Homo sapiens: one gene and its partner. The protein of the gene in region 1 interacts with the protein of each later gene in a biochemical or structural test. Each region holds a gene or a part of one and is shown on either strand. Other genes may lie near its edges.

Region 1 (6,093 bases):
GACCCTGTCTCAAAACAAACAAACAACAATAACAATAAAAAAAACCCTGAAAAACTGTTAAGTTTAAAATACAGAGACCAAGACTACCCTTTCTACTAAGCAGCTCAGAGAGTCCTCATTAACCCCAAGAACAGACATTCACAAGCAGCCCAAGAAAGTTGTTATAGCCAGCTCAAAATACAGAAGTGGCACACCAAGTGCTGTGGCACACACCTAGAATCCCAGCACTTTGTGAGCCCAAGGCAAGATCACTTGGAGCCAGGAGTTTGAAAGCAGCCTGGGCAACATAGCAACACCCTATCTCTACAAAACTAAAAAAAGAAAAAACTTTTAAAAATATACAGAACTAGCCGGGTGCGGTGGCTCACGCCTGTAATCTCAGCACTTTGGGAGGCCAAGGCTGGTGGATCACGAGGTCAGGAGATCGAGACCATCTTGGCTAACATGGTGAAACCCCATCTCTACTAAAAATACAAAAAATTAGCCGGGCATGGAGGTGGGCGCCTGTAGTCCCAGCTACTCAGGAGGCTGAAGCAGAGAATGGCGTGAACCCAGGAGGCGGAGCTTGCAGTGAGCCGAGATCACACCACTGTACTCCAGCCTGCTTAACCGAGCGAGACTCTGTCTAAAAAAAAAAAAAAATATATATATATATATATGTATGTATACACATATACACACACAGAACTGACATTCAATAAGAGATACAGTCTTGTGAGCCAGCTGCATAAAATATTAGCCAAACACTTAAAAGTAGTTAAGATACCCAGGGCAATATTTCCCAAACTAGTGGGCTTTGCTATATTATTCTGTGCCATAATAGGTAGGCCATGAAAATAGTAACCTGTGATCAAATAAACTAAACAAGACTGAGTTAAACAAAATTGAATAGCCTTCTTTATTAATGGATTTCTCAGAGCTTTTATATTCCAGCAGGCATTATGAATTCCAAGAGGAGGATACACTAACATTTCCCTCCAAAAAAGGTTTTCATTTTTTTCTCCTCACCACCTAAGAAATATTACAAGAAGGGTATTCTGTTTAACACTACTTTGGGGAATACTGCTCTTATGGGAGAGCAAAGGCTCAATAACAGAGTCCCTTACTAGGTGACTGGAAAGAAAAAATAAATCCAGCAAAGAATATAGTGAAGAAGATAAGACTGGAGAGTCCAGTATAACAGAAGCAAGAAAGAAAATAGTTTCCAAATAGCTAGAGACAATCAACAGGATCAAACTACTGGGAGGTCAAATACAGTAAGAATAAAAATATTCTTTGGTTTTGACTAGGAAGACTGCCATTTGTGACCTTCAAGAGAATAGTTTCAAAAAAGGGGAGGAAAGAAAGATGGCAGACATTTTAAGATTAGGATGGTTATGAAAAAATAGGTAGATGGAACATTTGTAGACCATCAATAATTTGACTTTAGCAATGAAAGTGAAAAAACAAATGGGTTGGTTGGGAGAAAGGAATATACAGATTTTTTTTCCTTTACTGAGAACAGGGGACACCCACATACTGTTGAAGGTAAAAAGTGAAACAAACTGAAAGAGACAGTTCAGTAGAGCTGGGCAAGGTGGTGCACACCTGCAGTCCCAGCTACTCAGAGGCTGAAGCAGGAGGATCACTTGAGCTCAGGATTTCAATGCTATAGTGCATCATGCCTGTGTAACAGCTACTGCACTCCAGCCTGGGCAACACAATGAGACCCTGTCTCTTTAAAAAAAAAAAAAAAAAAAGAGGCTGGGCATGGTGGCTCACACCTGTAATCCCAGCACTTTGGGAGGCTGAGGCGGGCGGATCACCTGAGGTTGGTAGTTCAAGACCAGCCTGACCAACATTGAGAAACCCCTTCTCTACTAAAAATACAAAATTAGCCAGGCGTGGTGGTGCATGCCTGTAATCCCAGCTACTCAGGAGGCTGAAGCAGGAGAATTGCTTGAACCCCGGGGGGGCGGAGGTTGCAGTGAGCTGAGATCACGCCATTGCACTCCTGCCTGGGCAACAAAAACAAAACTCCGTCTCAAAAAACAACAACAACAACAACAACGACAACAACAAAAAGTCCAATGGATGAAAGAATGGAATCAAGAGTATTAATTACAACAAGAGACTTTCCTTTGAGACCAGAGAGAAGAATGTGAATTGTAATGCTCAACCATGCCAAGTAGGAAGACCTTACTTTAATACTCCAAACTTTCATGGATTTCTACCTACTCTGCCCGAGAGTTTTTCAGTCTTTAGAGTTAAGCATGCAGCGCACATATAAATGTACTGATTCCTTGACCCTATCATAGCATGTCTATGTTATGGTGAAGAGGAGGGGGTTATAGGGAAGCACTTAGCTGAGGGCCTTAATCTTCATGAAATAAGAAAGCCAGGTAGAGGCTGTCAACAGGAAAGTTAGAAGCTCACAGACAGTTTAATTCATAATGACTTACCCTTAAGTGATTTTGATATGCAAAGTAAAACTTGTAATTATAATGGGCATTTACACACAAAAATGTGAAGATTACCAAAGAAGTGTATAGAAAGGCATCTACTATCCTGCCCAGAAATTTTCATAACTCTACTATACCTACAGAAGTTGCTAAGTCATAAACTATTAATATAGTTACCAATGAGCTAATGAAAACAAGGATTATTTAGTAGCAAGTATGATTACAGTTCAATTTTAAACTTTTTATATTTAAAACTTTGTATAGTTTTCCATCTGCATAAAACACCAACCCTAATAGCAACTTAGCTATACAAAATTTCATTCTATTTTCTTTCAATGAAGACACTGACATGACATTCCACTGCTTAAAATTTATTTTCAGATTCTAATCTTTTGGCTGATTTCATTAACAATTCAAATTGAGTAGATAATGATGGATCAACTATGTCCAAGACACAAGTGTGTCTCACATATAGCTCGAGGGCCCATCTATCATAACATTTTGATCACAAAAAGGCAGTCATAGCTGATTATTTAGTTATTCAATACATCACCCTATAGAGATTTTAAAAGTCACACAGCTTAAAAAATATATGATGACTACCATAAGTAGAGGAGTCAGAGGCGGCTTCGTTCTTTAAATAACGAAATTAATATTGATCAGTGTGCACGGAATAAAAATGAGACAATAACCACACCAAACCTGGCAGTCGCCAGATTTGTGTGTCTTTGAAGGTAAGGGGGCCACACAGGCCAGATGATTACTACTGCCAACTCACCAGCTGAGCTTAGAGAATAGGCAGCATCTGCACACAGTCCACTCTTGAGAACCAGAATTTACAGTCATTTTTTTCTGGCAGGGACCAGAGAACGTGGCACTGATAAACTGGGAAAAGTCTGACAGAAACAGGGTTGTTGGGGGTGAAAGGAGCCTTCAGGACTGAAATACTGGAAGGCATAAGACAACAGCTAGCGGATTAACATCCCGCCCCAGACCCCGGGGAGAAAAGAAACCATGGGGTTTGAAGAGAAAAGGGTCGTCCTTACCTTGTCATCCTCGCATCTCTTCCCGAGGCCCTCTCTGGCCTGCAGCCGGCTGCTGAGGCGGCCGTAGTCGGCCTCCTTCTGGTCGATCTGTTTCTTGTGCGTGTCCACCAACAGCAAGAGGTCCGAATTGCGCTTTTCCAGCCGCCCGCGGGCCACTTCGGTGCGCTGGACCTGGCCCTGCAGCTCGGCCACCTCCTCCTGAAGCAGGACGTGGCGGGAGGAGATGCTCCAGTAGTTGAAGGCGAGGACGACGATCACCACCAGCAGCACCACCAGCACGAGAGAGGGCAGGCGGCCAGCCCGCCGGTTGGCCCCGAAACCCACCATGGGGCCAAATCGGGCTGTACCCTAGGGGCCTCGCCGCAGACACCTGCAGGCAGAAGCCCAGGCCTCGGCTGGAGTTGCCCGGCGGACACGGCCCCAGGGCCGGCCGAGGGAGGAGGCGGGCTTACCGGTCGGCTGCGAGCCGGAGAAGGGGGCGGGGCCGCAAGCCGCAGGTCCCTCCCCGCCCCCCTCCTCAAATCAGGCCAAAACGCGTTCCGGAGGCTTTGAACCCGACCCTGCACCTGCCCAAGGGAACCGGGAGAACCCAGCTGCCAGCGTCCCCCAAACCCAACACCTCACGGTTGGGAGGCGGGGAAAAAAACCGGAAAGGGGCGGATGTACCCTGGCCCCACCCACTAGCTGGGGCCGGGTCGTCTAGGGGACCATTTCCGAGTTTCCGTCGACACCCCTCTTGTCGCGAGAACGTTGCTTCCTCTCGTCTCTCTCTCTCTCTCTCTCTCTCTCTCTCTCTCTCTCTCTCTCTCTCTCTCTCTCTCGCTCTCTCGCTCTCTCGCTCTCTCGCTCTCTCGCTCTCTCTCGCTCGCTCTCTTTCTCTCTCTCTCTCTCTCTCTCTCTCTCTCTCTCTCTCTCTCTCTCGCTCTCTCTCTCTCTCGCTCGCTCGCTCTCTTTCTCTCTCCCCGCCCAGAGTTTTCTCTGTCGCGTAGGGTGTTGTGTTAATTTTGGCGGTCTCAGATGTCTCAGGTACCTGGGTCGGAGTCCTTTCTGTTGTTATCTACTGGATTCCCTTGATTCAAGGCCTAGGGAGTTCCTGCCCTACACTGGCCCTCGCGAAAATATTTGTCTTTGAGGACGTCTGGGGCTGCGACCGCGGAATAGAAAAAAATAGTAGGTGAGCTGCTGCCAAAAAGGAGCGACTAGAAAGGTTTTGTACTTGCTTCTGTAGAAGGGGAATTTCTCTTTTGTGCTAATGATGTGGAAAGAAAAAACAAAAAGACTGTAAAATAGCGATGCCCTAAACATAATGGAGAAAAGCGGGAGAAACCAAGCTTTAGGACTGAAAGGGGTGGTGCCAGTCTCGTTTCCTAGGTTACTGCTTTCACGAACCGAAAGAATTTCAGAATGTGGCGAGCTCCAATTTTTAAACGCACTGCTGCTTTTGCCTCAGCTGGGCTTCCAAACAGAAAGTCCAGAAGCTGCCCTCGATGAATCGTAACTAATGCACTGTTACTGCCAGCGAACACATTCCGGGTTAGAAATAATAGCTCTAACAAATTGTTTTGCGCGCCTAGTCTCATATTATCTTCTCAACAACGCAATTTTACAGATGAAGAATCCAAGACACATAGATGTTTGGGAACTTTCTCTTATCTGGTTTTAAATAGGCTTGAATCCAGATCATTGAACTCTAAACACCAGTGCTGTCTGCATATAGCAGATTGTTTATATGTTAAGTGTGAATTTCAGTAGTGCAAAAAAAAAAACAAAACCTGCCTCTTTTTTTTTTTTGCATAATTATTTTGTCCGTGCATAGAGAAATAAAAAGGTACTGGCTCTAACCTGTTTAAGGAGAGGATGGGGTTGCCTTATTTTTCAGACCTCAGGTTGAAGAACTTCCATGAGTATAAAACCTCAAGAAGGAAAAACCTTGGTATTTTTTATTCGAATCAGAGTGATATGATTTTGAGGCAGGAAGACTTGTCATCTTAATTATTCTGTGCTTCCTATCCTCAAAAATTATTTCCCTAAGTCCCGTAGTAGCGTAGAATTATTGCATCTTCAAAGAACAATGATTACTCTCTCAGATGCAGTACAGAAAACCACCACCAAAATTATTAATACTTGGTTCACATCAGAAGTGAGCTCTGGCTTCATAAGATCTAACAAATCCTCTCCACTCTCAGATGACAAGCCGACTTTGGCAAAAGGAAGCAAAGCAAAAATGAGAAATCATTAACTATAAAGAGCCTTTCCATCTCTGCTTTCCTCAACTCATATTGGCCTTGCTCTGCTCAACCAGCAATCGAAAATTATTCTAGGCCGGGCGCGGTGGCTCACCCCTGTAGCCTCAGCTACTCGGGAGGCTGAGGCAGGAGAATCACTTGAATCGGTGAGGCAGAGGTTGCAGTGAGCCGAGATCGTGCCATTGCACCCCACCTTGGGCAACAGAGTGAGACTCCGTCTGAAGAGAAAAAAAAATTATTCTATAAAGTTATGTTAACTACTTAAGATTTACTGTTCCCACGAGTGTTTTCATTTTTACATAGGCAAATCTAAAAGTATAAATATTGTACAAAACACATACACATACATTTCCTCAACAG
Region 2 (3,213 bases), on another chromosome or scaffold:
AAGTATAAACAATCCTAATAAACAAATGTATTATTGTCCCTTGTGCTATAGATAAAGAAAGGGAGAACAATAAGCCAATTATAAGCACACTTACATTTTTACATGTTAACTCTGTTATAGTCAGGCATGTCACCTACATTTGGAACTTAAGATTTTCAACTCCTAAATTCAGGTGTCATTTGCAAGTAGATATTAGTAGAACAGATCATATTCATTCTCTTCATGGTAATAATGGTATAATTGGCTAATTTATTTTGATTGAGATGGAGACACTATTTAGGCTTTATAGTATTAGCTGGTGTTCATGTGGTCAGCTTTTGACATGTCCTGCCCCTCAGCCTATGTATGTTACAATTGTTTTTGTATCCCTCATTTTCTACATAGGATAAAACAAGCTGGTATGCTAGTGTAAAGGGGGAGGCATTAATAGCCTTGTGTAGAAAGTCCTTAGTTCCAATTAAAACAATTTAAATTATAAAATTGTGCACAGAGAGACCAGAGAGCTGATAATTGATCTTTATTATACAGAAATGTGAAGGCCATAAGCATTAAATGAGAAGGAGTTTGGCAGTGAACATTATGCAGATTCAAACTGAAGGTATCCTCGTCTTACTGAGATATAAAAATAAACACTAAGAGTTGCAAGAAAGAACTCAATTCAACTTCTATCTCCCAATCAAGCTATAACTTTCCACAGGAAAACCTGGTTTCAATTCATGCCGAATTGTTCAAAGAAAAGAAAAAGCTAAATCAGTTAGAGACAACACATGGACTGGCTTTTGTCCTATTAGAGAGCCAGACTGAAGCTGTATTCAGCCTCACATTTAGAGACTGTTTCCTATTACAATTTATATCTCTATTTGCCTAAGAGATACCTAAAGTGAAAAACAAAAAAATGTTAACTGAGCTGGGGCATTTTTGTGGGGCTAAGTAGATTTGGCAGAGGAGAGAAATGAATAAATAATTCATTTAATTATTTCTAATCAAGAGGATTTAATGTCAGGTCTGGGTCATCTGTATTAACCCTTTGACAGTTTGTTGTTCTATAATGGTCAAGAAGCACTATCCCATTAAAGTATAATAAATGCTGAACATCAGCACAGCTCAGTGCACATCCTCTTTATATCCTCAAATACTGGACTTTATATCAGCATGCTTTCAATACCAAATTAGCCCTTTAAATAGGATCTTTCTTAATAAAGCTTCTCATTGCCCTCACTACTGAAGTAAAAAACGTGTTAGAGATTTGGCCAGAAAGATGGTTTTACTGAAATAAGACTGATGACTAGGAGCACATCTATGGATTAAATATAGACAAAACTACTCCCAGAAACCTTAAATATAGACAGACTTTATTAATTTATGTAGGAAGCCAAAAATAGGAAATAAAAAGATCTGGAGTTCAGATATACTGATATATTCAGCAACTGAAACTTACAATTCCTTCAATTCAGTCAGAGCAGAGACATTTAAAGTAGTCTGGAGGGGTGGGTGCAGTGGCTCAAGCCAGTAATCTCAGCACTTTGGGAGGCTGAGGTGGAAGAATTGCTTGAGCCCAGGAATTCAAGACCAGCCTGGGCAACAAAGCGAGACTCTTGTCTAAAACAAACAAAAAAAAGCTGAGTATGGTGGCACGTGCCTGTAGTCCCACTTAGTTGGGAGACTGAGGCAGGAGGATCCTTGAGCCCTGGAGGTCAAGGCTGCAGTCAGCTGTGATTGCACTACTGTACTCCTGCCTGGGCAAGAGCAAGACCCTGTCTCAAAAGAAAAAAAAAAAAAAAGTGGCCTGGGGGAAACAGGACAGTCATATACCCCAAGAATGGAAATTTTCATGCCACCCCCCTTCCTTCCTTACAAATTCTAATGCTGATTGCATGAACGAGGTGTTGAGAGAGACTTTTCTTCATTTAGACATTTGCCCTAGTGAATGAGGGAGCAAGAGAATGCTAAGAGGGATGAGAGAATATATTTCTGGCTCTAGGACTTTGACATCCAGGTAATTGAATCTGGGACATTCTCATTAGGTTAGAAAAGGAAAGATGAGAAAATCACTAGCAGGATATGCAATTCCAGAGACCATCTGCTCCAAAAATTAGTTTTGTTTCTCATTGCTCCTTATTCAGCGACAGTTATTTCAATAAGCTACATTATTTAGCAGAGTCTGAGAGACAAAGGCTGTGAAAACATGTATTTATGATAGAAAACAAACTCAGAAAAATATAATAGATAGTTCACTTTTTATCTCATTCACATTCTATAGCTGGAGAACTCAAAATCCCATTTAGATATTTCTGCTTATCCAAAAGCACACTGGGTGAAACTAAACCACCAAATGGGAGAAAATGTTCATTGGGTGTGTGTGGCTTCACCCAGTTTATTTACCTATGGAGTGGAAGTGTAGGGAGAAATAAGGTCTGCTTATAATGGTCAAGGTCTATGGAGAAGCCCTGAAGTTGCTCTCCCCAAATCACAAGTCTGATTCAAGAAAAGGAAACAAAAATGATGAAAACATCTCATCACACAAAACTCAGTGATGGGGTCTCTGACAGTCACCAGCCAGCAGGGGAAAAGGAGAAATCCACCTGCCGGCTTTAAGATTTATTGAAGGCTGCCAGCACAGCCCAGATCATTTCTGTGGCACTAGGCTTTGTCCCTTCCACTTCAGGGTCCAGTTCTACTAAGTCCTTGGCTCGATTCATTGCCACATCATACTTGTCATCTGTCAGAGAGGAGAAGACATTCTCTAGCACATCAGAGGAGTGGGCTAGCACCAGGAGTGCTAGTGTTCGCTTGTCCATACGCTGAGGGTCATTTACCCACCGCTCTAGTACACTATCTTGAAGTTTTTTCACTAGTCGCTGTTTCTCTGTTGTATTGGTCACTGGATGAGTAGTCATGTCAAATAGCAGGAAATTCTGCTTCTCAGTGGTTAGAATACCTTTCTCTACTAGGTTCTTTGCGATGCGCTCTCGTACATTTCTCAGCTGGTACTGTAATTTGAAGGGGTTCCAGGTCTCACCTATGAGAAAAAAGAAATAGGACATAATGAACTGAAAGAGAAAAGCAAAATGAAACATGTAGTTGTTTGGAAACTTGAATGGCTAAAATGTTTAAAAGCATAATCTTCATTCCTCAATTCATTTAATCCTTAGTCCTTTATAATCTGGCTTTGACTCCAACCACATTTCACATTAAACCAGCTTCAAAAAATGT

Evidence for each region. Proteins that work in one complex are often made in the same cells at the same time.
Region 2: the proteins of GOLM2 (region 1) and GOLPH3L form a complex in vitro, tested with the Homo sapiens proteins (one study listed by BioGRID).

The regions. Positions count from the first base shown.
Region 1 is NC_000015.10:44,286,751-44,292,843, reverse strand, and holds the start of GOLM2 (protein GOLM2), read right to left. Parts: upstream 4,126-6,093; 5' UTR 3,815-4,125; coding exon 3,488-3,814; intron 1-3,487.
Region 2 is NC_000001.11:150,645,730-150,648,942, forward strand, and holds the end of GOLPH3L (Golgi phosphoprotein 3-like), read right to left. Parts: intron 3,020-3,213; coding exon 2,592-3,019; 3' UTR 501-2,591; downstream 1-500. UniProt on the Homo sapiens protein: Phosphatidylinositol-4-phosphate-binding protein that may antagonize the action of GOLPH3 which is required for the process of vesicle budding at the Golgi and anterograde transport to the plasma membrane.